Linked DNA regions of Homo sapiens. The protein of the gene in region 2 interacts with the protein of the main gene of each other region in a biochemical or structural test. Each region holds a gene or a part of one and is shown on either strand. Other genes may lie near its edges. The genes, in order: HIP1R, EPN1, REPS2 and EPS15.

The links.
Region 1: the proteins of EPN1 (region 2) and HIP1R form a complex in vitro, tested with the Homo sapiens proteins (one study listed by BioGRID).
Region 3: the proteins of EPN1 (region 2) and REPS2 form a complex in vitro, tested with the Homo sapiens proteins (3 studies listed by BioGRID and IntAct, with this or other methods).
Region 4: the proteins of EPN1 (region 2) and EPS15 form a complex in vitro, tested with the Homo sapiens proteins (4 studies listed by BioGRID and IntAct, with this or other methods).

Annotation. Positions count from the first base shown.
Region 1 is NC_000012.12:122,859,453-122,863,488, reverse strand, and holds the end of HIP1R (huntingtin-interacting protein 1-related protein), read right to left. Parts: coding exon 3,953-4,036; intron 3,718-3,952; coding exon 3,659-3,717; intron 3,443-3,658; coding exon 3,412-3,442; intron 3,342-3,411; coding exon 3,279-3,341; intron 3,067-3,278; coding exon 2,966-3,066; intron 2,811-2,965; coding exon 2,705-2,810; intron 2,574-2,704; coding exon 2,450-2,573; intron 2,359-2,449; coding exon 2,297-2,358; intron 2,182-2,296; coding exon 1,975-2,181; intron 1,784-1,974; coding exon 1,736-1,783; 3' UTR 528-1,735; downstream 1-527. UniProt on the Homo sapiens protein: Component of clathrin-coated pits and vesicles, that may link the endocytic machinery to the actin cytoskeleton. Binds 3-phosphoinositides (via ENTH domain).
Region 2 is NC_000019.10:55,670,449-55,678,227, reverse strand, and holds the start of EPN1 (epsin-1), read right to left. Parts: upstream 3,003-7,779; 5' UTR 2,793-3,002; intron 1,600-2,792; exon of another isoform or gene 1,057-1,599; coding exon of another isoform or gene 1,010-1,056; intron 679-1,009; coding exon of another isoform or gene 494-678; intron 1-493. Other genes in the region: U2AF2 (splicing factor U2AF 65 kDa subunit), read right to left, coding at 4,160-4,294. UniProt on the Homo sapiens protein: Binds to membranes enriched in phosphatidylinositol 4,5-bisphosphate (PtdIns(4,5)P2). Modifies membrane curvature and facilitates the formation of clathrin-coated invaginations. Regulates receptor-mediated endocytosis.
Region 3 is NC_000023.11:16,949,653-16,956,683, reverse strand, and holds part of REPS2 (ralBP1-associated Eps domain-containing protein 2), read right to left. Parts: intron 1-7,031. UniProt on the Homo sapiens protein: Involved in ligand-dependent receptor mediated endocytosis of the EGF and insulin receptors as part of the Ral signaling pathway. By controlling growth factor receptors endocytosis may regulate cell survival.
Region 4 is NC_000001.11:51,397,242-51,404,272, forward strand, and holds part of EPS15 (epidermal growth factor receptor substrate 15), read right to left. Parts: intron 6,292-7,031; coding exon 6,178-6,291; intron 5,285-6,177; coding exon 5,194-5,284; intron 3,713-5,193; coding exon 3,677-3,712; intron 1,925-3,676; coding exon 1,791-1,924; intron 1-1,790. UniProt on the Homo sapiens protein: Involved in cell growth regulation. May be involved in the regulation of mitogenic signals and control of cell proliferation. Involved in the internalization of ligand-inducible receptors of the receptor tyrosine kinase (RTK) type, in particular EGFR.

The DNA.
Region 1 (4,036 bases), on a different chromosome or scaffold from region 2:
CAGCCTTCCCTCTGGCATGGTGCTCCTGGGTAAAGTGGGTGCTTGTGAGGCTGCCACACACCCAGGGACTGAACACCTTTCCAGGTTTCCGGTAAGTGCAAAGGCTGTGTGTGGCCATGGCTCAAGTCCAAGCCAGCCGGGAGTCAGGGTCCCCACCTTAGCTTAGCAACTGTCAGTCAGGCATGGTCTCAGACACACTGAGGGGGTCAGCAACTGCTAGGAGCCCCAGGGAAGCTGTGGGCATTGAGGCTGGGAGTGCAAGTGGCCTCTGTGGAGGCAGCTGGCTCTTGGCCTCCTGTGTAAAAGGAGGGCCCTGAGGCCCATAAATCCCCCGAGAGAGAGATGGAAGGCGGACACACACACAGCCAGTGACAGCCCTGCTGAGCTTTTCTGCAGTCCCAAGTACTCTAGCATTAAATGCAGACATGAATAGGTCCCCGCCCCAGCACCTGGCCAGGGCCGACAAGGGAACACGTGTCCCTGGAGGAATGAAGAGCCAGGCACAGCCCCTCCCTCTGGGGCATCAGTGACAACAAACAGTCAAAGTGCATTTTATTGCCAACAGAACACTTCAGGAGGAAATGCTAACACAAAGCCAAGGCGCTGGTGCTGGCTCATTTTTGCTCCTCCTGACCTTGGCCAGTATTTGGTAGCCTTTCCAGAGCACAGGGTGAAAGGCTAAAGGGCTAGGGCTGGGGTGGGGGGAGCAGGAGGGCATGGCAGCTGCTGGCTCTGTCCTCCCAGCCTGGTCCCACCCCTCCTGCCGCTCTCCTTGGGCTCAAGGGACACACATTCGTTCAAATCTGACGGGCAAAGCCAGGGCCTAGCCCACTCTAGCCGCAGGGTCCCCTCCCTGAGGGCCCTGGTCCAGCACCTGGGTTTCTGGGCTTTTTCTGGCTGAGCTGGAGGGCCTAGGGCCAAGCCCACTCTCCGGAGGGCTGGAAACCACCCCTTCAGGTGGGCAGTGGGGCGCGGCCAGAACGGGGGAATGGAAAACAGGAAATGGGGGTGGCTGCAGATTCCAGCTGGAAATGGAAACTCACTCCAGGAGTGAAGGCAGCGCCCGGGCCGCTATGTCTCACCTCACTCCCCAGAAAGCGGCCCCTTCCAGCATCTGACCCCTCCTGGGGGGCTCCCATCACGGAGGCCCGAGGGCCAGGCCTGAGGAGTAATGGGCGACATTCCTCTAGCCCACACAGAGCCTGGTCTGCGGAGACCACGCAGCTGGAGGGCCTGGTAGAATCGGTGCCCCAGAAGGCCACAGACAGGATGCCTGACCCTCGTCCCATCAGCCGGCACGGGCTGTGTGCCTTCCATCCATCCACGACCTTCAGGAGTCCAGAAGGCAGGGAGCCCCACGCTGGCCCGGTTTCCCAGTGTGCTGACTACAAACGTAGGAAGAAGAGCTCTAGCTCGGAATATTAAAAACACTATTTTCTGAAGAGGAATATTAAAAACACTATTTTCTGAAGAGTTGAGGCTCAGGCCTACCGGGTCCTGGCTGCACCCCAAAGTTCCTTCTGCAGATAAATAAGAGACTCACATCCAGAAGCACCACCCACATGGCCCAGGACCCTGCAGGCTCAGTAAGGGCCAGGGGCCTTGAGGACATTGATCCAGACGGTGGGGCGGGAGGCTTGGGCACCAGGTGGAGGGGCAAGGCCTCTCGGTCCTGTCAGGGCAGTTGCAGAGGCCCAGGCCTGTCACCAGCCACCCTGCTGGACCCCTGGGGGGCCTAGTAGTTCACGAGTTGAGCTGGGTAGATGCCATCCTTTTTGTCAAGCTGCAGGGGTTAAAGGTGGGGGGTCAGTGGTCACAGCCAGGCACCTGGGGCCCCACCTCTCCCTTGAGCAAGCTCCTCCCTGCATGTTGTCAGTGGTCCCTGACTTCCCCAGGGACGTGCACCATGTGCCCCTCTAGGGCTGGGGACAGCACCCCCGTCCAGGAACTCCCCCATCCCAGTGCAGACGGCACCTGGTGGTCCTGTCTGGGGGCCACGCTGGGCTTCTGGGCCAGGGGTGGTTTCTTGGTGGTTACACTTCGGGGGGCAGTGCTGGGCCGGATGGCCACCTCCTCTCCAGGGCTGCCTGATGCCCCAGCCAGCACGTAGTGTTGCTTCCGCAACTCCCCCAGCCGCATGCGTTCAGCCTCCAGCGTCTTCTCCAGCTCCAGGACACGCACCTGTAGCCACACGGCCTGCTCAGCCCAGCCCAGCCTCCCCAGGGAGCTCTCTCCTGGGTCCAGGCTTCGCCCGAGGGATGAGCTCAGAGGTCACGGGGCAGCCATGGGCGCCTACCTGGGTCTCCATCTCCTGCTTCTTCAGCTTGATGAGGGACAGGCCGGAGAAATCCATGGTGTCTGTGGCCGGAGGACAAGGGGGTGAACATCTGGGCACCCACCCCCATTCAGCCTCGGGAGCCAGCAGCCCCCGTTGGCATCTGGCACTCACCTCTGTCCTCAATCTGCTCCTGGCCTGACTTGGTGGAGGCCACCACATTGGCAGCCCTCTCATTGACTGTGCGAGAACATTCCTGCAGGCGGCTCAGGTGGGGGCTGTGCTTGTTGGCCTTCACCTGAGGGGCGAGAGGTCAGGGTGGGCCCAGGTCTCCCAGCTCAGGGCAGCAGCAGGCCTGGGCTTGGCAGCCACAGCCCAGGCCAAGCTGGGCCCAGAGCCCAGTGTGCTGCTGTCGGCGTGCAAGCTCACCTTGGAGGCCGCCACCAGCTGGGCCGTGCTGGCTGCGATCTCGTGGGAGCAGACGATGAGCTCCTCATACTTGCCCGTGTGAAGCACCACCTTGTCAGCTGCCTCCCTGCGGGTCAAGGGCCAGTCAGGGCCAGGGTCTCTGACCCCACGGACGGCTGGCACCACTCCACACCCCCTCTACTCCCTGCACCCTGTTGAACCCCAAACTGCTCCAACTGGCAGGAAGCAGCCCCCTGCCCCCCCCCACCCAGGGCAACCTACACCAGCTGTGTGGCTCCCCAGCCCACAGCCTTGGAGGCCGAGATGAGGCCTTCGGTCCAGCGCGAGTTCTTGGCGTAAAATTCCTGCTGCGTGGCTGCCCCCTAGTGGCGACGGGAGAACAGGGCAGGACATGCCAGTCAAGGACACCAAAGGTGGAAAGTGGCCCTCAAGGGCCCTCTCCCCCTCACTCTGGCCATAGGGCGCATCCCTGAGGCCTCCCTGTGGTAGGGGGTGGAGGGTCTCATGCCCAGGGTGGCCTAGGCTGGGGGTCAGGCTCCTTGTGGACTGTGCCCTGCTGCCGCCGGCCCCTCACCCTGCCGCTCTCCACGATCTCCTTCTGCAGGCTAGTGGATGTCGTCACCAGGAGCCGGATAGCCTGCCGAGACCAAGACAGCAATGACTGGTGGCCCTCCAGGTGCAGACCCCCCCGGGTCACAGCCCCTCACCTTCATCAGGTCTGTGCAGGAGTTGAGGATCCTGGGGGAGAGAAGGAGAGACTTAGCTGCCGCTCTGCAGAGCAGCCCACACGACGCCATGGCGGGCCTGGCCACATCAGGGCTCAGCAGGTGGGGAGGGAGTGTCTGCTCTGAGCCAGGCCTTCCTTTCCCGTGAGCAGAACAGTTGGGGGCAGAACCTTAGGGGCCACGGGGAGCCCACCTCGGCTGGGCCTGGGGGGACAGAAGGGGGGCTCACCTCTCGTTCACCTCCAGCTTCACCCCCGAGCTGGCGTGGCGTGCCTGGTTCATCATGTCCTGCACCCAAGAACAGAGCCGTGAGCTGGCTGGGAGGAGGGGACCGTGGTCCTGGGAAAGCCAGGGCTGCCTCCTGCCCTCTCAGCTCTGACCTCACAGGCCCCTGGAAAACGCCATCTGTCCTCTGTCTGGAGGCTGAGAGCAGGAGTGGGTGCAGCCTGTACCCAGCCCAGTTGGGGCCTCCGGCCCCCAAAGCTCCACAGGAATGAGGGGAGTCCCCAGATCCCGTGCTCACCTCAATCCTCCGCACAGCATCTTCAATGGCTGCGGATGTGGCCGCCATCTCCTTGTCGACCACGGCCCCCAGCTCCTCCTGCCG
Region 2 (7,779 bases):
TCTGTCAAATGGGGCTCCATGCGGTCATCTAGAGAACTGACGCCCTGTAAACACCGGCAGCGCATCAGGAGGCCCTCCGTCCTGCCCATGCGCTCTTCCTTCTTCCTCATCCAGGGATATCCACTCACCCCAAGGGCTCTGCTTACACTTCCCAGGTGCACACCCAAACATCACAGTCACCTATCCCTGGGGCCTCATCAGTAAACTCAGTCTCCCTCATGATTTTATATTCTCGTCTGATTCTGTAGCTAAGGTCAACCCACAGGCCCCATGGGGGCAGAGAACATGTCTGTCTGCATGTGGCTTTTCCCAGCAAAGAAGCTGGCCCAGAAAAACCATTCAGTAAACCATGCAAGGAGGAAGTGGAGAGGGAGGGCAGGAAAGACCTCTGGAACAAGGGCAGAGGGGGCAGGAATCCACAGCAGAAACAAGGACACATGGGAAAGAAGGCTGATGAAGGGATTAAAGACAGAGGCAGGAGCAGGGAACCAACCCAGGGCGGCAGGAAGAACCGGGGAAGCCAGAAGACCAGACGTCCCAAGGATAGCGGAAGCCCAAGGCTCAGGAGAGATAAGGAACCTAACAGCCCCACTGCCTGGGTCCCTGCTGTGTGCCAGGTGCTCGCTCAGCACAAGAGGGACATTACCTTTTTCAACACTGCATGCAAAGACTGGGCTCCTGGAAGTTAAATAATTCAACCAAGGTCACACACCAGGAATGGCAGGGCAGACTCAACCCGAGGCCCACCTGAACTCCAAAACTCATACTTTTAAATTAACCTAAATTAAATTAACCCATCCCGAGACTGGTGACGAGAAACAAGAGAGTCAAGCAAATGATGATGACACCAGCAGACACTCGCACTGCTCTTATCCCATGCCAGGCACTGTTTTAAGTGCTTTACATGTATTAACTCAGTTAATCCTTGAAACAACCCCATGATTCATAGCCACCTCACAGGGTGGAAACTGAGACACAGAGGTTCAGCCCCTTGCCCAGGGACACACACCTTACTCCTGGAGCAGCCTGGTTCCAGAGCCAGCTCTGATCACCCATCTATGCGGCTCCAAGAAGCCACAGAGGGAGATTTTCAAAGCCCCGCCATGATGTAAGCCCAGGGGAGATAGGGATGACGGAGAGAGGCTGGCCTCTGCTTCCACCTCAGGCCAGAAAGCCAGGCACCTGAAGACAGATGTAGCTAGTTAAAAAGTAACTCTCTGGAGTCCCAAAACAGCCCCAGCCTAATACATTAAGATGAAGAGATGATGTAACAAATGCAGAGAAGGGGACTGAGAAGAAATAGAAGACAGTTCTGACAGAAAGAGACACATAGAAACCTGGGCAGAGGGAGCTAGGCAGAGACACAATGAGAAAAACACAGGCAGCAGCAGATACAAGAACATGGGAAGACAGGGAGGCAGGAGGCCAAGGAAGAAAGAGGCCCAGAAACAAAAAGAGACCTGGCGCTGAGAAATAAGAGATAAGAAAAATGGAATCTAATGGCAAAGAATATAAAATGTGGGTTCAAATCCTGGCCACATCAGCTACCTGCAGCGCACACCTCCTTGAGACACAGTTTGCTCAACTCTGAAATGAAAGAATTCCTACCTGGTAGGCCTGTTGATTAAATAAGATGGGTACATGCAGTGCTTGGCTCTGTGCCCCACAGATAGTAGGCGCTCAATAACACTGGCTGCTATTATTATCAGAGAAAAAACAGAGAACATTTCCAAAAGGGTGGCGGCAGAAAAGGCACTATCTTAATACTCTGTACTTATTTGGCGTGCATTAGAAAAAATTACCCAACTAGCACATCAAAGCTGAGATTTCTCAGATACTGCTTAGAATGAGACTGTATTTCAAATTAAATTGATTCAAAGAGAATTCTTACATTAAAAAGAATACAAAGGATATGGCAAAGTTCTCCAAGGAGTACTCCAATAACCGACCGATATCTAACACTTACTGTGTAAAAATCTCTAAGCACTGTAATAATAAAAACCAGAGCTCCCAGTAATTACACACTTGCTATGTGTCAGATACCGTCAGGCACTTTACAAGCATCACCTCAACTTACATGCACAAGGACCCTATGATGTAGGAACTACGAATGCCTACGAACTATGGATTTCCTACGACTAGGAAACTGAGGTTTTGACACAGAGACTATCACCTGGCAATTACACAGCTTAGCAGGCAGCCGGGCTTCTGAATCCAAGGCTGGGGCTCTTCACCATCACACCAGAGACTCAGAAAACTGGGGAAAAGGGGCAGATTCTAGATCAAGTTAACAGACTCCTGGAAAGAAACTTCAGGATTGGAGGTGATAGGTATGGGGGCAAAACTCAGATGCGAAGACGGGGCGGGGGTAAGATTTGCACCATAGGCAGAAAAGCCCGCAGGGAAGGGCTAGAGACACCTAGGGAAAAGAAGACTCGGAAACTCAACGAGACACGAACAAATCCTGACAGACACAGACACGACAGACAGAGGAGAGAGAGACCCGGGACAGACACACAAACACACTCCTATCTCCAAACCCTTTTCTAAGTTCACTGAAACAGGCACAGGCAGAGGCCCACAGGAAACAGACGCTGACAGACACACAGACACGAGAGAGACAGACACAGACAACCGACACGGGGGCAGTCAAGGCCGACACAGGAGCAGAGACACAAAGGCCGCCAGAGACACCCAGAACTGGCCAGACGCGAGCCCGCGCGCGCCGCGGCCCAGGCCCGAACACCCGGAGCAGGCGGGCCAGCGTCCCCCGCGCTCCGCCCCGCGCTCACCTCGGCCCCCTCACGCCGGGCTCTGGGGGGTCATGGCGGTCAGCCCCCTGCCCCGCTCGGCCTCGGTGTCGCGGGACGTGCGCCGGGCCACGGGCGCACGCACGAACGCAAGGAGGGCCGCACGCCGACGGCTCCGCCGCCCCGCCGCCCAGAAGGGGCGCGGAGAGCCGGGCGGGGGAGGGGAGCCGCCGAGGAGACGGGAAGCAACAGAAGGAGGCGACGGACCGGAAGCGGAAATTGCCGCGCTCCCCGCCCTCCCGTGCCGCACCCCGCCCTGGCAGGAGTCGCTTCCGCAGCCAAGCCAACCTGGAAGGCATCACTTCCGGCGCGCTGGGCCCCGTTGCTAGGCGCCTCTACGTCACTTCCGCCCGCTGCAGCGGGGGATCCGCGCGGTGCTCACGGAACGCCGAGAGTCAGCTCCAGCTCGCTTGGCGGCAACCGCGGAGCTCCTGGCACACCCACGCCACGCCCGCCCCGGCCCGCTCGGCCACCATCCCTCCTGTCGGCGGGGTGGGAGAGCACTCGGGAACCTCACGTCCCCCGGGGCTGTGCCTGTGCCGACCCCGAGAAGGGCACCGCGCAAGCAGGGAAGGCCTCGAGGCTGCCGGCGCCGGCAGCAGGGGCGTCCCAGCCAGGGGCCCGCAGTTTGCCAAGGGAACCCCCACCCGAGCCCAGAACCGAGGAAGAGGGTCGGACATACTGGACACACAGCCGCTCCATAAAGTAAAATACAACAAAATGTTTAATGAGCAAATTCGTCTTAGCAAATATGAAACTGCCACAGAGAGTAGGAGAGGGGCAGGGGCCACGGGGCTGGGCGCAGGTCGGGGGAGACTAAAGAGGAAAAATCAACTACGTAAGAAACCCAGGAGGGGACCAGAGAGGACCAGAGGCCGAAGGAACAGAGCTGTGGTCCTGGTAAGGGAGAGGGCAGGGCACTGAGGGCCGGACAACAAAATTCAAAATAGTTTGGCCATAAAATATAAACACGCTATGTTCCTACCGTGGGGAAGGGGAGAAGAAAGGGGTCTATGGGAGAAGGAGAGGCTGTTTTGGGAGGGGCTGGGGTCCTACCCCGCCCTGCTGTGCACCCTGTCCCCATCCCAACCCCTTCCCTCTGTGTCTGTGTGGGTGCGTGTTGTCTGTGTGGGCTGTGTGCGCACTTCCCCAGTCCCCTCCCTGCCCTAACCCCCCAACCCCCCAACCCCCGCCCCCCACCCTTAATTGCTGCCATTCCAGTTGCTGCCGGCTGTCGTGTGTCTGCGGCTGTCACTCCTCTGCCCATCGTCTTCAGAGGGGGATAAGGGGGGGGCGGGAGTGGGGAGAAGCCCCCAGCCAGCCCTGCCCCCACCCTCCCCCAGCCGCCTCTACCAGAAGTCCCGGCGGTGATAAGAGTCGGGGTCACAGTATTTTGTGACAACCACTCTGTTGGCGAACTTGCGGCCCGTCAGGCCCTGCATGGCTTTCTGGCAGTCAAACACAGAGGTGAACTCCACAAAGATCTGTGGGGAAAGGAGAGGCAGGTTTGTGAACAAGGCTCACGCCCAACAGCCAGTCAGCGTCCACCCAACCCCAGCACTGAAGGCAGGAAGGGACAGGGAGGAGGGGGCTTCGCCACAGGTGTCAGAAAGGGACCCTTAGTAAGCAGGTTTGGTGGAGTTCACCCAAATATTCTCCAGGATCAAAAAACAAGAGCATAAACACACCATAGGCATGGAGAGGGAGAAAGAATAGAGACATGCCAGAAACTCAGCAGAGCCATAGAGCGCAGGCGGGAGGCCTAGACGAGCTCACCGCGGGGGAGGGGTCCCTCGTGCTGAGTGTCTACTCCACACGAGCCACCATGGTGGGCGCTCCCAGAACCACCCCAACAGCCATGTTCTCCCAACAATAAGTGAACTAAGGGAAGCTCAGAAATTAGGATTCAAACCCAGGTTGAATAAAATTTAAAAACTTGAACCTTGATCTATTCGAGCTTCTAACCTTGCTTAAACCAATTTACAGGAAAATGGAGGGAGGGAAGGATACAATGAGCCTACACGAACACTGAAAATTCTATATAGCAGATGAACTTATTTCTTCTACAAATAAAAGAGCTTGCAAAAAAAAAAAAGAGGGAGTGAGGTACAAAGGATAAATTACACAAACTTTGTAACCAAATTCAAGGCAGGGACCTGATATGGATCCTTACTGAAACAAACTATAAAAAATATCCTCGGCTGGGCACAGTGGCTCACGCCTGTAATCCCAGTACTTTGGGAGGCTGAGGCAGATGGATCACCTGAGGTCAGGAGTTCAAGACCAGCATGGCCAACATAGCGAAACCCCATCTCTACCAAAAATACAAAAATTAGCCAGACATGATGGCGGGTGCCTGTCCCAGCTACTCTTCTTTAACTCGGGAGGTGAAGGATGCAGTGAGCCGAGATTGCGCCACTGCACTCCAGCCTGGGTGACAGAGTGAGGCTCCGTCTCAAAAAAAAAAAAATTATTGGCCGGGCGCGGTGGCTCACGCCTGTAATCCCAGTACTTTGGGAGGCCAAGACGGGCGGCTCACAAAGTCAGGAGATCGAGACCATCCTGGCTAACACGGTGAAACCCTGTCTCTATTAAAAATACAAAAAAAATTAACCAGGTGTGGTGGCGGGCACACTGCACTCCAGCCTGGGCAACAGCGAGACTCTGTCTCAAAAAAAAAAAAAAAAATTCTTGAGATAGAAAAATTTGAACATGGAATAGGCACTAAGGAATTTCGCTAATCTAATCATGCTATTGTGGTTTTGTTAAAAAAACAAAACAATTTTTTAAGGTTATCTGGTTAGAGCAGTGGTTGTCAACTGGAGGAGGGGGGGTGTCCCCAGGGAACACTGAGCAATCTTTGGAGATGCTTTTGGGTGTCTCAGCAGGGAGTAGTGCTCTTGCATCCGGTGGGTGGAGGCTGGGGATACATCTCAATATCCTACAACGCACAGCAAAGGCCCCCACAGAGAAGTTATCTGACCCAAAATGTTAATTGAGAAATAATAGAAATATACTTAAGGATCTCAGGTGAAATAAACCTGATAAGCCTTAAAATAATCCAGCAAAGAAAAAGGAGGGGGGAGAAATAAGCTGAATATGAAAATTAAGAATGACAAAATATTGGTAACTTGAAGCCAGATGAAGGAACACCAAAATATTAGCACATATACTATGATAAAAACGTATCACTATCATAGTCCCTACTTTTAAGTATATTTGAAAAGACATGTAACAAAAAATTTAAGAATAAAACAATACAATGCAGTAATTTTTTTTTTTTTTTTCTGAGACCATGTCTTGCTCTGTCACCCAGGCTGGAGTGCAGTGGCGTAATCTTGGCTCACTGCAACCTCCGCCTCCCGGGTTCAAGTAATTCTCCTGCCTCAGACTCCTGAGTAGCTGGGATTACAGGCACGCACCGCCACCATGCCTGGCTAATTTTTGTATTTTTTAGTAGAGATGGGGTTTCACCACATTGGCCAGGCTGGTCTCCAACTCCTGACCTCATGATCCGCCCGTCTCGGCCTCCCAAAGTGCTGGGATTACAGGCGTGAGCCACCTCGCCGGGCCGCCGATGCAATAAATTTAATATGCAAAACAGGTCAGCTGATCCCAAAGGCCAGGGTCTCTCCATTCCTTCTTCCCACAAATGTTTCCTCAGCCCCTGCTTGAGCCAAGCTCCATCCCAGCACCAGAGGGCAGCCCTGAGCAGCCCTGACATACCAGCTCAAGGGAAGGGGACTCTGGAGGGCAGTGGGCAGGAGCTGCAGTGAGAGGAGATGCCGTTGGCCTTCCCCATGCCCCTTTTCTAAGATGCTCCTTCCACCTCTCCAGCCGCCCTCCCCAACCCTGCTCTCCCTGGGCAAACCACTCCGACATCCCAAGCAGGGCCTCGACAGACACCTGAGTGTCCATCAGCCCTCATGCTGGGAACACAGACCTGTCCAGCTAATTTTTCCTTGACATCTCTACTGGGTGTCTCAGAAACCGCAAAGCCAGCTAGCTGCCCCCCACCCCCCGCTCACCCCCGACAAGGTGCTCATCACCCCTGCATCTCACCTGCCATCCCCACCATCAGAGCTGCCACTAAGCAGCTCATAGGCCTTCTCCTCCCCTCCCCACAAACCCACACCCATCACCAAAGTCTGGACACTTCCCAGGCACAAGTCTCCCTCAAATCCATCAACTTCTCTCCATCCCCTGCTACTACTTTAAATCAGATCACCATCTTTCACCAGATTATTGCGGGAGACCTCATTCATTTTCCCAACTGCAGCCACAATCACCTCAAAAATGCCACCACCACAGTCCTGTTTTCTCCTTCAAAAGGCCACCAACTCCAGGGGAAAGCCGAGCTGCTTCCATGACATAAGAAGGCCCCCACGCCCGATCTGGCCCTGCAGAGCCAGCCTTGGTCCTGACAAACCTGGCTGTGGCATCGCTTTGGCAAGACCAACCCTGCCAGCTCCCGGCAAGCCCTCCTGTCCACAGCACCCTCTCTGCCCTCCTGCTGATCCACATCCTGCCCTGCAGGGCTCAGCAGGGAAGCCAGGGCCAGGGGAAGTACCTGCTGTGCCTCCGCACCCACCCCCAACCTCACTATGTGGGGTCATTTCCATCTGCCAGGCGTGACCACCCTGGAGGCCTCTCAGTATTGCTTCCCTCCCATCTGGCTCAAAATAAGCGGTCGTTCCAAGACCCAGGCAGCCCTCCAAGGCCTGCCACTCAGCCCTGGCCCCACCACCTCGCTCACTCACCTGCTCACTGCCACCTCTTGACCTTGACCACCCTGAACGAACAGTACACCCAGGAATGCGGCCCCTGCCCCGACTCAATACGGCATGCAGGTCCTCTAACAGCTGCACGGACAGCAGGGTGCAGGGACAGCAGGGTGCACGGGACAGCAGGGTGCACGGACAGCAGGGTGCACGGACAGCAGGGTGCACGGGACAGCAGGGTGCACGGG
Region 3 (7,031 bases), on a different chromosome or scaffold from region 2:
CTGTCCCTGGTGAGGTCTCAGAGGAAACAGCTGAGCATCCATTCACTCTGAGCTTCCTGCAGGACAGACTGGAGGAGGAGGGACCACAGCAGCCTGAGGGAATCTCACTCCTGACCATGGACTTGCCAGCAGCATTGCTGTCATTTGACCGAAAGCAGTGAACCCTGTTGCCTAGGCAACATGGCAAAATCCCGTTTCTACAAAAAATACAAAAATTAGCTGGGTGTGGTGGCATGCACGTGTAGTCCCAGCTACTTGGGAGGCTGAGATGGAAGGATCATTTGGGCCCAGGAGGCACAGGTTGCAGTGAACCAAAATTGTGAGATTGCACTCCAGCCTGGGTGACAGAGCAAGACCCTGTCTCAAAAAAAAAAAAAAAAAAAAAAAAAAAAAAAAAAACTGCTGTGGTTTTTTGCTTACATGCATAATAGAAGGAAGTGCTCAATTTCAGTTGGGGGAAGGGCAGTTAGTAAAAAAAAAAAAAAAGATGTAGTTCTTTTCCACATCTAAATTCACAGACCCCTGAACTAACCCAGGCTGAGAAGGCCTGCTTTAGAGCACTGCGTGCAGGAGTAGCCAGGCAGGGCATTTGCATCTGCTTTTCCACTTTTTTTTCCTGCCTCCTACTAGTTAAGAGGAAAAACAATTGCCTAAAGACTAAAATTGAAAATACCTAAGAAGTTACATATTTGCCAGTTCTACTTAGGATGAATTACGCATGAAAATGTTTCTTAAAAAGATAAAGGAATTCTAAATTAGTGGCTGAGCAAAACATATGTATATTCTGGCCACAAAAAGGCTCAACAGAATAATTTTCTACTTCAGACAAATCCTGGAAAGCAAGTGTGGTGGAAAGATCCTAAGGTGTCCCCCGCAAAATTCTCACCTCCTGGTCTCTGTTGTTTTGTATAATCCCCTCCCCTTGAGAGCAGACAAAACCTGTGACTTGCTTCTAACTAATGGACTATGGCAAAGGTGTCTGAGCTAACTGGAGAGAGACACTCTCCTGCTGGCCTTGAAGAAGCCAAGAGCCATGTTGTGAATTGCCTATGGAGAAGGCCATGTGGAGGGAACTGCAGGAAGCCTCGAAGTTGAGAGCCTCAGTTCTAAAATCACAAGGAACTGAATTCTGCAACCAAGTGTTGGACCTCCACAGAGGACTCCAAGCTCCAGACACCTTGATTGTGGCTTTATGAAACTCTGAGCTGAGGACCCAACTGAGCCATGTCCAGACTCCCGAACCCACAGAAACTGGGAGATAATAACTGTGTGCTGCTTTAAGCTGCTAAGTTTGTGGTAATTCATTATAGAGCAATAGATAACTAATGCAGCAACCAAGAGAGGGGGTGACCATCCCAGTTTGCCTAGGACTGTCTGAAGACTGAAGTTCCATGCCCCCAGGAAATCCTTCAGTCCTGCGCAACCCAGGTTGATTAGTTGCCCACCAACAGATAGGTATGAATAATAGAATGCCATCAATACAAAACATGAGAAACTTGCCTATACGAAACAAACAGAAAGTTTGAAAAACCCTGGAAAGGAACCAAACCCTCTTTTTAAAGTTATAAATAGGCCAGGCGCGGTGGCTCACACCTGTAATCCCAGCACTTTGGGAGGCCAGGGTGGGCAGATCACCTGAGGTCAGGAGTTCAAGACCAGCCTAGTCAACATGGCGAAACCCCATCTCTACTAAAAAATATAAAAATTAGCCAGGCATGGTGGTGGGCGCCTGTAGTCCCAGCTACTCAGAAGGCTGAGGCAGGGAGAACTGCTTGAACCTGGGAGGCGGAGGTTGCAGTGAGCCGACCTTGCGCCACTGCACTTCAGCCCGGGCGACAGAGCAAGACTCTGTCTCAAAAAAAAAAAAAAAAAAAAAAAGTTATAAATAATTAGCAAAAACAACCCAAGATTTCCTCAAAACCAATTGTCTACACCCTTAAAATAGGACAGCCCCTACTTAGGAGTGTGAAGCTAGAACAATATTCAAATCCATCTTGTATTCCTGGTCTTCAGTTGGTTACTTTTTCAATCTCCCTACAGGTTTCCCAACTATTCTAAATCAGTTCTCAAGCACGTCTATCTCCATGACAGCCAAAGGCTTGACAGTATTGAACCATCATCAGTCTTGCCATTTGACCATAGGCCACAGGTACCTTTTCTGGCCAACCTAAACCCCTGCATGTTTCCATTTCCTTCTGCCCACCCTGGTTCCTTCCTTAAAGATAAGCCCTATGAACCATATGATGTTTGCGACTTGCTTCAGGATAACAAAGGTGAGAGGGAACAAAGATAGAAATGTAGATGGAATTGAATTAACCTTGCATTGACAGTTGTTGGGCCTGAGTGGCAAGTGCAGCAGGGTTTAATGCATTATTCTATCTACTTGCTTATTTGAGATGTTCCATTTTTAAAAAGATGAAAAATGGCAGGGTGTGGTGGCTCACACCTGTAATCCCAACACTTTGGGAGGCTGAGGCGGGAGATCACTTGAGCCCAAGAGTTTGAGACCAGGCTGGGCAACATAATGAGACACCATCTCCACAACAAATTTTTAAAAAGAAAATTAGCCAGGCTTGGTGCTGCACACCTGTATTCCCAGCTACTCGGGAGCCTGAGGCAGGAAGATTGCTTGAGCCCAGGAGGTTGAGGGTACAGTGAGTCATGATCAGATTGCTGCATTCCAGTCTGGGTGACACAGCAAGACCCTGTCTCAAAAAAATAAAAGATGAGAAAAAAAGAAAGCCCATGAAAGTCAATTAATTAGCTCAAACATCCCCTAGCACGCTCAAGAATATAAGTGTGCATTCTGCTATCTATGAAGGTGTTCTTAATTTTCATACACGTTTCGAACAGTCCCCCAGTCATGTGACATTCTATATAAATAAGGAAAAATGCCACCTACTTCCTTTTGGCATAAGGGTCTCTACCGCACTGTAACAATGAGTCATTGTAAACGTAAGTAGTAAAGATTTTTTAAAAGGAAACATAAATGAACTGAAATTACATGTGTCAACAAGATGAATTCCAAAAACAAAACAATGAGAGGAAAAGCAAGTTGCAGAAGGTTACACAGAATACGATATTCCTTAAGTTGAAAAGACATCCAAAATAATATCTTTTTTAGTGATTTATATATACACAAATATATATATCCACATATACATACAATAAAAGTAGAAAGAAATCTTCAAATCATGCACACCAAATTCAGGACTCTGGTAACTCCAGGGTAGGGAGGGAGGGGAATGGGACCAGAGAAGGGGACATAGCAGGCTTTCACTCTAGCTGGGCTGTTTTACTTATACGGAGTGGTGGATACACAGTTATTTCTTGGGTAACTGTCTAGTTTTACATGCCTGAAATATTTTATTACAAAAGAGTCAACAAGTAACTATTATGCAGAGGTACTCCTTTTAACCAGGCAATGGTTTAGCTCTGGTACTTCCTACATCTGCTGGCATTCATTCTCTTTTAGAAAAAAAGAATACTGTCAATCTAAAACAGCATATAGTTAGTCCTAGTTACTGGTTTGTGTGTTTGTGTGTGTGTGTGTGTGTGTGTGTGTGTGTGTGTGTGTGTGTGTTTGTTTTTTGGTTTGTTTGTTTTTGAGACAGAGTTTCACTCTTGTCTCCCAGGCTGGAGTGCAATGGCCTGATCTCAGCTCACTGCAACCTTCGCCTCTCCGGTTCAAGCAATTCTCCTGCTAATTTTTGTATTTTTAGTAGAGATGGGGTTTCGCTATGTTGGCCAGGCTGGTTTCAAACTCCTGACCTCAGCTGATCTGCCCGCCTCGGCCTCCCAAAGTGCTAGGATTACAGGCAATGAGCCACCCTGCCCAGCCCCTAGTTACTGTTTTAATATGCTGGCCTCTATTTCCCTAAAGTATAGTTACAAAATGATATGATCTAAAGATGTAAAAATATAAAGTTGTTTCATTTAAATTTTTAAAAAATAGTTCTGCCTAATAATCTAGCAATGAGCGAAAGTTCACAAGAATTTGTCTTTTACCTATAATTTTCTTTAATGATTAAACAGTTGCTTCAAAAAATCAGAAGAGAGCCTTCAGAAAAGACTTCTCCCCAAAGGTGAGGGCATGCGCACAAATTGTTTAAATATTCCCTACTTCTCACAGCTTTGTTTTACTTATTTACCTCAATGAAAGCTGTTTAAACAATCAGACAACACTTATTGGGTTTTTTTTAATCATTCAGTGATTTCCCTTGATATGGAAGCAACAGTGTTTTATAATTATTCCCCTTAATGTCCAAGAATTAACTATCACAAAAATGAAAACCAACATGGATGAAGCCGGAAACCATCATTCTCAGCAAACTAACACAGGAACAGAAAACCAAACACCGCATGTTCTCACTCATAAGTGGGAGCTGAACAATGAGAAAACATGGACACAGGGAGGGAAACATCACACACCGGGGCCTATTCAGGGGTGCAGGGCTAGGGGAGAGATAGCATTAGGAGAAATACCTAATGTAGATGATGGGTTGATGGGTGCAGCAAATCACCATGGCACATATATATACCTATGTAACAAAACTGCACGTTCTCCAAGTGTATCCCAGAACTAAAGTATAATTTAAAAAATTAATACAGATGAGATCTGGAGCATATGTGTATAATTACATAAGTCATGTATGTTTTACATGAGCATAGAAAATGTAAAAAGATATGCACAAAATTGACTTTTTTATATACTCTTCTGTTACTTGGCTTTGAAAAAATAATGTTCCCATTTTTGAATTTTAAAAGAAAACTCCAATAAGATGTGTATATGTTAAAAAAATTTTTTTAATGAAAACCAATTTTAATGATGACTCATGCACAGCATTCCAAGAGACTGACACTATCCTAAAAGATAGATATTATAAAGCGGTCTGTTAATTCATTACATCAAATACAAAACTTGCTGCTTTAAGGTAGATATTTTATTTATTTACTTATTTATTTTATGAGACAGGGTCTGGCTCTTTCACCCAGGCTGGAGTGCAGTGGTGTCATAATGGCTCATTGCAGCCTCAAACTCCTGGGCTCAAGGGATCCTCCCACCTCAGCCTCCAGAATAGCTGGGACTACAGGCATGCCCCAGAGAGAGGTAGGTAGCGGGGGTGTGTGTGTGTGTGTGTGTGTGTGTGTGTGTGTGTGTGTGTGTGTGTGTGTGTGTGTGTAGATGGGGTTTTGCCATCTTGCCCAGGCTAGTCTAGAACTCCTGGGCTCAAGTAATCCTCCGACCTCAGACTCCCAAAGTGCTGGGATTTATAGGCGTGAGCCACTGGGCCTGGCCATAGCCTATTTTGAAAGGTCTTTTGGTCTCTTTATAGAGTATTTATTTCCCTGTGCTGACTTATTTTAAGAGCAGGATTCTAGCACTAGGTGGAAAATGGCAGAATGGGATACTTTTAAACTAGAAAAAGAAAATATGTCTACGAACAGGTAAATGGTTTTGTTTAGTATTTCAAGACAGAGCAACAAACGTTAGAGTAGTTGGTTTCCCAGGTTATGAAGTATTTTGTTGGTATTCAAAGGCCAGAATTTTACTAGAAGGCATAGTGTGTGGTAAGAATCAGGTCTGGGTTTGACATGTATTTGGTTTGGGTTTGACAGGCTTATTTTACTTTATTTTGATACAGGGTTTTGCTCTGTTGCCTACGCTGGAGAGCAATGGTGCGATCATAGTTCACTATAACCTTGAACTCCTGGGCTCAAGCAATTCTCCTGCCTCAGCCTCCAGAGTAGCTAGGACTACAAGCGCATGCCACCATGCCCGGCTATTTTATTTTGTGTAGAGACAGGGTCTCACTATGTTACCCAGGCTGATCTCAAAGTCCTGGCCTCAAGCAATCCTCCCATCCTTGGTCTCCCAAAGCACTGGGACTACAGGCGTGCGCCACAGCACCAGGCTGACATTTTATTTTTGGATGTTATATTTCAAGTCTTTTCTCAACCAAATAAAAACTCTGAAGTGTAAAAACATTCACATGAGAACATAAGCTCCATGAAGACAGAGATTGTGTTGGATTCACTATTATAACCTCAGCACCTAGGACAGTACCTGACACACATCAGAAACTCATATACGTTTTCCACCTAGTGCTAGAATCCTGCTGTTAAAATAAGTCAGCAAAGGAAAATAAATACTCTGTAAAGAAACCAATGCATTGCTGATGGGAACGCAAAATGGTACAATCACTTTGGAAAGCAGTTTGGCAGTTTCTTATAAAACTAAATATACTCTCACCATACAATCTAGCAATCATGCCCCTTGCTATTTACCCAAATGAGTCAAAAGCTTATCTCCTGCATGTAACAAAAAAGGCTGCATACAGATGTTTATAACAGCTTTATCCATAATTGCCCAAACTTGGAAGCAACCAAGATATCCTTCAGTAGGTGAATAAATAAATTGTAGTACATGCAGACAATGGAATATTATTCAGCACTATAAAGAAATGAGCCACCAAACCATAAAAAGACATGAAGGAATTTTAAGTGCATAGTACTACATGAAAGAAGCCAAAGTGAAAAGCCTATATACTGTATGACTCCAACTATATGACATTCTAAAAAAGGCAAAACTATGGGGACAGTAAAAAAAAAAAAAAAATCAGTGATTGCCACATGTTAGTGGAGAGGGAGGGATGAATCAATAGAGCACAGATTTTTAGAGCAGTGAAACTATTCTGTATGATACTACAATGGTGGAACCGTCATTATACATTTGTCCAAACCCACAGAATGTACAACACCAAGAGTGAGCCCTAATATATAGACTTTGGGGAATAATGAGGTGTCAATGTAGGTTCATCAATTGTAAAAACTCTATTATTCTGATGTGGGACGTTGAGAGTAAGGAAAGCTACGGGTGTGTCGGGGCAGGGGATATATGGGTACTCTGCTAAATTTTGCTGTGAACCTAAAACTGCTCTGAAAAAAAAAAATAGTCTATTAAAAAATATGTTAAGGCCAGGCATGGTGGCTCACGCCTGTAATCCCAGCACTTTGGGAGGCTGAGGCGG
Region 4 (7,031 bases), on a different chromosome or scaffold from region 2:
AAGAGCTTGGCACCATCCCTGGCACACAGAGGAAATTAGATAAACTGCAGCTATTATTATATTGCCAATCTGGTTTTTTGTTTTGAATGGTGAAATTACAAGCTGTAAAGCAAGGACAATATTCCTTTAGAAAACTGGGAATAAAAGTCAGTAAAACAAATGGTAGAAAAATCTCATGGGGGACAGGACAAGAGGAATGTATTCATTTTTAAATTAGAAGAGCTAATTTAGCTTTCTTGCTCTTTAGATGATAGGAGAATGAGAGGCTAGAATAAGAAGGTGAGAGGAGAAGAATTCCAGTAGCAGCAATTTTAGAAGAATTTGGCAAATGGGTCCACATTGCAAACTAAGTGCTATAGGAAAACAGAGTATCCAGCAGCCCAGGGAAACGAAAAATATTCAGTCACGAAGGTATCTGTCCAGTTTTTATTCAATGGAAAACACCAGTTCTTAGCCAAGCAGCTCTTTACTGAATACAAAAAAGAAGCAACTTTCAATAATACAAAACCTATTATCTTTAAAATAATCAATTACATTTTAAAGGAAATATTCTTAATCTAATAGTACTAGAAGACAAATTTTTTGCTTCAAATGCTTCTCAGTTAACTGGTCCTTTATAGGTTCAGTTTACCTACAGACATGAAACTGTGGTCTCAAAAACGAAGTCTCAAAATACAAATTAAAAAGCAAAACCAAAAACCTGCAAAACCATTCCTAACTATTGAAATTGGGTAATGGATGCATGGAAGCTTGTTAAAATATTTCATTACATTATTCTCCTTTGAGTATTTCTAAATATCCACAAGATGAAGATTTTTTTTTTTTTTTTTGAGACGGAGTCTCGCTCTGTCACCCAGGCTGGAGTGCAGTGGCGCGATCTCGGCTCACTGCAAGCTCCGCCTCCCGGGTTCACGCCATTCTCCTGCCTCAGCCTCCTGAGTAGCTGGGACTATAGGCACCCACCACCGCGCCTGGCTAATTTTTTGTATTTTTAGTAGAGACGAGTTTTCACCGTGTTAGCCAGGATGGTCTCGATCTCCTGACCTCGTGATCCGCCCACCTCAGCCTCCCAAAGTGCTGGGATTACAGGCGTGAGCCACCGCGCCCAGCCATGAAGATTTTTTTAAAGCCTCCAGATAAAACAGCAACTAGCTATAGGACCTTAAACATGTTAATTTTTCTAAGTCCCAGTGTCCTCATTTTTAAAATAGGGATATCAACACCTACTTTGCAAAATTGATGTGAAGATTAGAAACAATGAATGTAAAGCACACACCAGTACCTGGATCAGGCATGTGGTTATTAAACAGTGATTGCTGTAGGTATGTACATTCTCAAGAGAGCTTGACATTTAGTGAGAATTTGTACTTTGCAGAATTAACATTCCAGATGTGTCTATGAAATAACATAAACGATTTTATTTTTCTAAAATTCTTTTAATTTTCATTATTTCAATAATATACCAAACATTTCAGAAAAGTTTTATGTAAGATTGGCTTATAAATTTCCAATCATTTTTAGTATCCTCAATAGGATAAGATTTAGTCTCTTGAAAGATGAACATCACTTTTGGACTCCGTTCAGTCATTCCAGTTAATTCCAGTGGGTAATCAAACTATGAAATACCAGTCTGAACCAAAAACTAAATGAATTGGGATGAGACTGAAATTCTTATATGGTCCATTAGAAGTAATCTAAATGAGGGTTCTTTCATCACTATGTATTTCAAGAAACTTGCTTAGGACACTTATTATCCATTTAACTTAACAGTTTTTAATTCTCCCACTTACCGATGTAATACTGCTATTGTTGGCTGCACTGAAAGGGTCAGTGCTTGAAGTGGCAAAAGGATCAGTAGATTGCCTGAAGAAACAGTCTGATGCAAATGGATCTGAACCTTTGAAAGGATCACCACCAAATGGATCTAAAAAAATAAGGCACGAATATAAGAGACAAAAAAAAATTATTGCACTAAATTTCCCATCACTTGAAGGTATGATCAGTGCCTTAATTAAAAGACAGTCTGGGGCCAGGTGCAGTGGCTCACGTCTGCATTCCCACCACTTTGGGAGGCTGAGACAGGCAGATCACTTGAGGTCAGGAGTTCAAGACCAGCCTGCCCAACATGTCAAAACCTCCTCTCTACTAAAAAACACAAAAATTAGCCAGGCATGGTGGTGCGCACCTATAGTCCCAGCTACTCGGGAGGCTGAGGTGGGAGACTCACTTGAACCTGTGAGGCAGAGGCTGCAGTGAGCAAAGATCTGCCACTGCACTCCAGCCTGGGTGACAGTGAGACCCTGTCTCAAAAACAAACAAACAAAAAGACAGTTTGGGCCAGGTGCAGTGGCTCACACCTGTAATTCCAGCACTTTGGGAGGTTGAGGTAGACGGATGACTTGAGCTCAGGAGTTTAAGACCGGCCTGGCTAACACAGTGAAACCCTGTCTCTACTAAAAATACAAAAATTAGCCAGGCGTGGTGGTGCGCGCCCGTAATCCTGGCTATTCGGGAGGCTGAGGCATGAGAATAATAGCTTGAGCATGGGAGGCGGAGGTTGCAGTGAGTCAAGACCGCACTACTTGTACTCTAGCCTGGGCAACAGAGCAAGACTGTCTCAAAAAAAAAATCCAAAAAGACAGTTTGAAATACTGTAGAATCTAAGCTGAGTACTTTTTATTTCACAGACTCCTTTGCAATTTTGATAAAAGATACAGAACCTTCCACCTAATAAACTTATTTTTAAAATTAACATATAATTTCAAGGGATCCAATTTTAAGTCCCCTTATTCTACGCTACCGTAACTAAAGAAAACACAATAAAAACTTCTAAATGTATTTTTCTCTCTGAGCTCAAAGCTAACAGCCAATAGTTTAGAACAGGTTTGGGATGCAAAACTAAATGGTAAACAAGATTTGCATTATTCTAATGAAAATTCCCAGAAAAAGAATATCTCAAAAAGCCTGATGTTTTAGTAATTCTTCAAGATTCTCTGCCTCTAATCACACGTGTGGGCTATAATCTTAGGAAAACAAAATTACATTCTAAACCCTGAAGCAGTATAGATCATTATGCTCACCAAACCTTTAGTTAGTAAGGAGGAATCAGAATAAATATTTAAAGCACCAAAGTCTAAACACTAATGTCATTTTTAAAAAAGTAAAGCTATCGGGCACAGTCGCTCACACCTGTCTGTAATCGCAGCACTTTGGGAGGCTGAGGCAGGAGGACTGCTTGAGCCCAGGAGTTCGAGACCAACCTCGGCAACACAGTGAGACCCTGTCTCTACAAAAAATAAAAAAAAATCAGTCAAGTATGCTGGCATGAGCCTGTAGACCTAGGTACTCAGGAGGCTGAGGCAGGAGGATTGCTTGAGCCCAGGAAGTCAAGGCTGCAGTGAGCCATGATCACACCACTGCATTCCAGCCTGGGTGACAGAATAAGACCCTGTCTCAAAAACAAAAAACACCAAAAAAAAAAAAAAAAAAAAAAAGAAGAAGTAAAAGTAAAGCAACAATTCATTAAGCAAAATCAAAAGAATTTACTACTCTCTTTCTGAAAATGCCAGGCACATAGAGCATCTTACTGGGGCTTCAGTTTCAGACCTAAATAACATAAGCTTATTATTAAGCAGAAATGAATGAAAGCTAAGATGAAACTCAATAAGATACTGACCGATTTTTCCAAAAGGATCATCCTTGAAAGGATCACCTGTGATAAAATAAACACAAAGAAATCCAAATAACAATATTTACTGTGGTGACACCACTACTTAAAGAGTAACTTTCAAACAAAAGCAAAGCAAAGTTTATTTCAATAACTTCACTTCACAGTAGATAAAATAAGGAATGTCATTGACCTTATGAAATATACAGCCAACTATACTTACCTTGATCACAAGTTGAGGTTACGGATGGAGGGGAAGACATTACAGCAAAAATTTTACTAACAAAATCTCTACTCTCCACAAGAGTACTGGGAGGGTATTATCATCACCAGTTCAGAAATAAAGGTACTGAGCTTTACTGAAGCAAAAAAAAAAAAATTCTTACAGGATTGAAGAGTCCAGAAATAAATCCTTACCTTTATGGTCATTTGATTTTTGACAAGCGTATCAAGAACACAAAATGGAGAAAGGACAGTCTTTTCAACAAATGGTGTTAGGACAACTGGATATCCACTTGCAAAAGAATGAAGCTCGACCTCTATCTCACATCATATACAAAAATAAACTCAAAATGGATCAAAGATCTAACTGTAACAGCAAAACTATAAAACTCTTAGACAAAGACAGCATTAAATCTTTGCGACTTAGGTAATAGTTTCTTAGATGACACCAAAAGCACAAGTGACAGAAGAAAAAATAGATAACTGGACTTCACCAAAATTGAATAAACACTTTTCCAAAGAAGATACACAAATGGCTAATAAGCATCTAGAAAGATGTTCAACATTAGTCAGTAGGAAAATACAAAGCAGGCCAGGCGCAGTGGCTCACACCTGTAATCCCAGCACTTTAGAAGGCCGAGGCAGGCGGATCACCTTACATCAGGAGTTCAAGACCAGCCTGGTCAAAATGGTGAAACCCAGTCTCTACTAAAAATACAAAAATTAGGCCAGACGCGGTGGCTCACGCCTGTAATCCCAGCACTTTGGGAGGCCAACGTGGGCGGATCACGAGGTCAAGAGATGGAGACCATCCTGGCCAACATGGTGAAACCCCGCCTCTACTAAAAACACAAAAGTTAGCTGGGTGTGGTGGCAGGCACCTGCAATCCCAACTACTCAGGAGGCTGAGGCAGGAGATTAGCTTGAATCCGGGAGGCAGAAGTTGCAGTGAGCCGAGATTGTGCCACTGCACTCCAGCCTGGCGACAGAGCGAGACTCCATTTCTAAATAAATTAATTACATAAATAAATAAATACACACATACATACATACATACATACATAAAATTAGCTGGGTGTGGTGGTGGGCGCCTGTAGTCTCAGCTACTCAAGAGGCTGAGACAGGAGAATCGCTTGAACCCAGGAGGCGGAGGTTGCAGTGAGCCGAGATCGTGCCACTGCACTCCAGCCTGGGCGACAGACTGAGTTGGTAGGCTATTGAAACTGAAGCCTTGAATCCTTAGTTTATATATTAAAAAGTCTTTTTTTTGGGTAAATCTATAATATAAAAAAAAGAGTACTTACTGCCAACAAAAGGATCAGACTGGAAAAAATCCAAGTTTGTATCTGCAACTGGACCTGTCAGCGAACTTGAGTCTACATTAAATGGATCTTCCTAAAAATAATTTTAAATTAAAATTATTTTTTAGAAACCAAAGTTTTAAAAGGTAACATTTTAAAATAAAATAACACACATTCAGGTCATACACATGCTTTGAAAAATCAACTGATGGGCCAGGCACGGTGGCTCACACCTGTAATCCCAGCACTTTGGGAGGCTGACGTGGGCAGATCACAAGGTCAAGAGATAGAGACCATCCTGGCCAAAATGGTGAAACCCCGTCTCTACCAAAAACACAAAAATTAGCTGGGCATGTGCAGCTACTCAGGAGGCTGAGGCAGGAGAATTGCTTGAACCTGGGAGGTGGAGGTTGCAGTGAGCCAAGATCACACTACTGCACTCAAGGCTGGGTGACAGAGTGAGACTTGGTCTTGAAAACAAAAGGAAAATCAACTGATGGTAATGTAACAAATATCTCTCTAGTCATAAAGCACCTTTAACACATTTTTCTCTTTCCTTCACCTTAACATATTTTTCTCTTTCCTTCACCTAAAATAGTGTATAATTCATCTGAGGAAAACAGTGATAAGGACATTTTTTTAAAATATCATTTAATTTTTAGAGATTAGGTCCCTCTATGTTGCCTAGTGCCTCCAACTCAGGCTCAAGCAATCCACCTACTTCACCTCCTGAGTAGCTGGGACTACAGGCACTTGCCACCACATCCAGCTATTAAGAACATTTATTTATTTTATATGTATAAATTCAAGGGGCACAAGTGGAATTTTGTTACATGGCTATATTGCCTAAAGGTGAAGTCGGGGCTTTTGATGTATCTATCATCTGAATAATGTATATTGTACCCATTAAGTAATGTCTGATAATTCACCTCCTCCTGTCCTTCCACCCTTACAAGTCCCCAATGTAAATATAAAATCATTTTTTACCTCTTTTGAATGTCTATTATTGTCGAGTTCAGAACAAACTTTTTCAGTAACAGCTGTAGTCACCTCATTTTCATCAGTCACACCAGAAGGCAGTAGTTCAGGACTACTTCTTGCCTACAAAATATTAATGCAAGTAGATTAACAATATACTTTTTGACATGGCAGAGAAAACTGACTAAAGATAACCAAAAACTATTTAAAAATAAAAAAAGACAAGCAGAATGTATTCATCAAATAACTTCTCCTTCTATAATCTTTTTTAGGGAAATGGTGTCATCAAGCATCAAAGTCACTCATGTCAGAAACCTTCAGGTCATCTTTAATCCTCAGAATATGACTCCAAGTCTTGCTCAGTCTACCTCTTACCTCTTTTTCAAATCCTTGCCTTCTTCTCCATCCTCACTGTCACTATCAATCACTTATAGTACTATCATCTTTGGTTCCAATTACTATAGCAGTCTTCCTTCCAACTGCTTTCCTGCCTCCAATACATGTATTTCCAATCTCTTCTCCTTATTGTAGCCAAACTAATAGCTCTAAAATGTGGATGTGATCGTGACCCTTCTGGTTAAAAGTCCTTCAATGGCTTCCCATTGTCTTCTTCATTTAGACGAGTGGGTGAAAGACTTAAGAAGTAGTAGGGGCAGGCCGGATGCAGTGGCTCACACCTGTAATCCCAGCACTTTGGGAGGCCGAGGCAGGCAGATCACAAGGTCAGGAGATCGAGACCTTCCTGGCTAACACGGTGAAACCCCGTCTCTACTAAAAATGCAAAAAATTAGCCAGGTGTGGTGGCACACGCCTGTAGTCCCAGCTACTCGGGAGGCTGAGGCAGGAGAATAGCTTAAACCCGG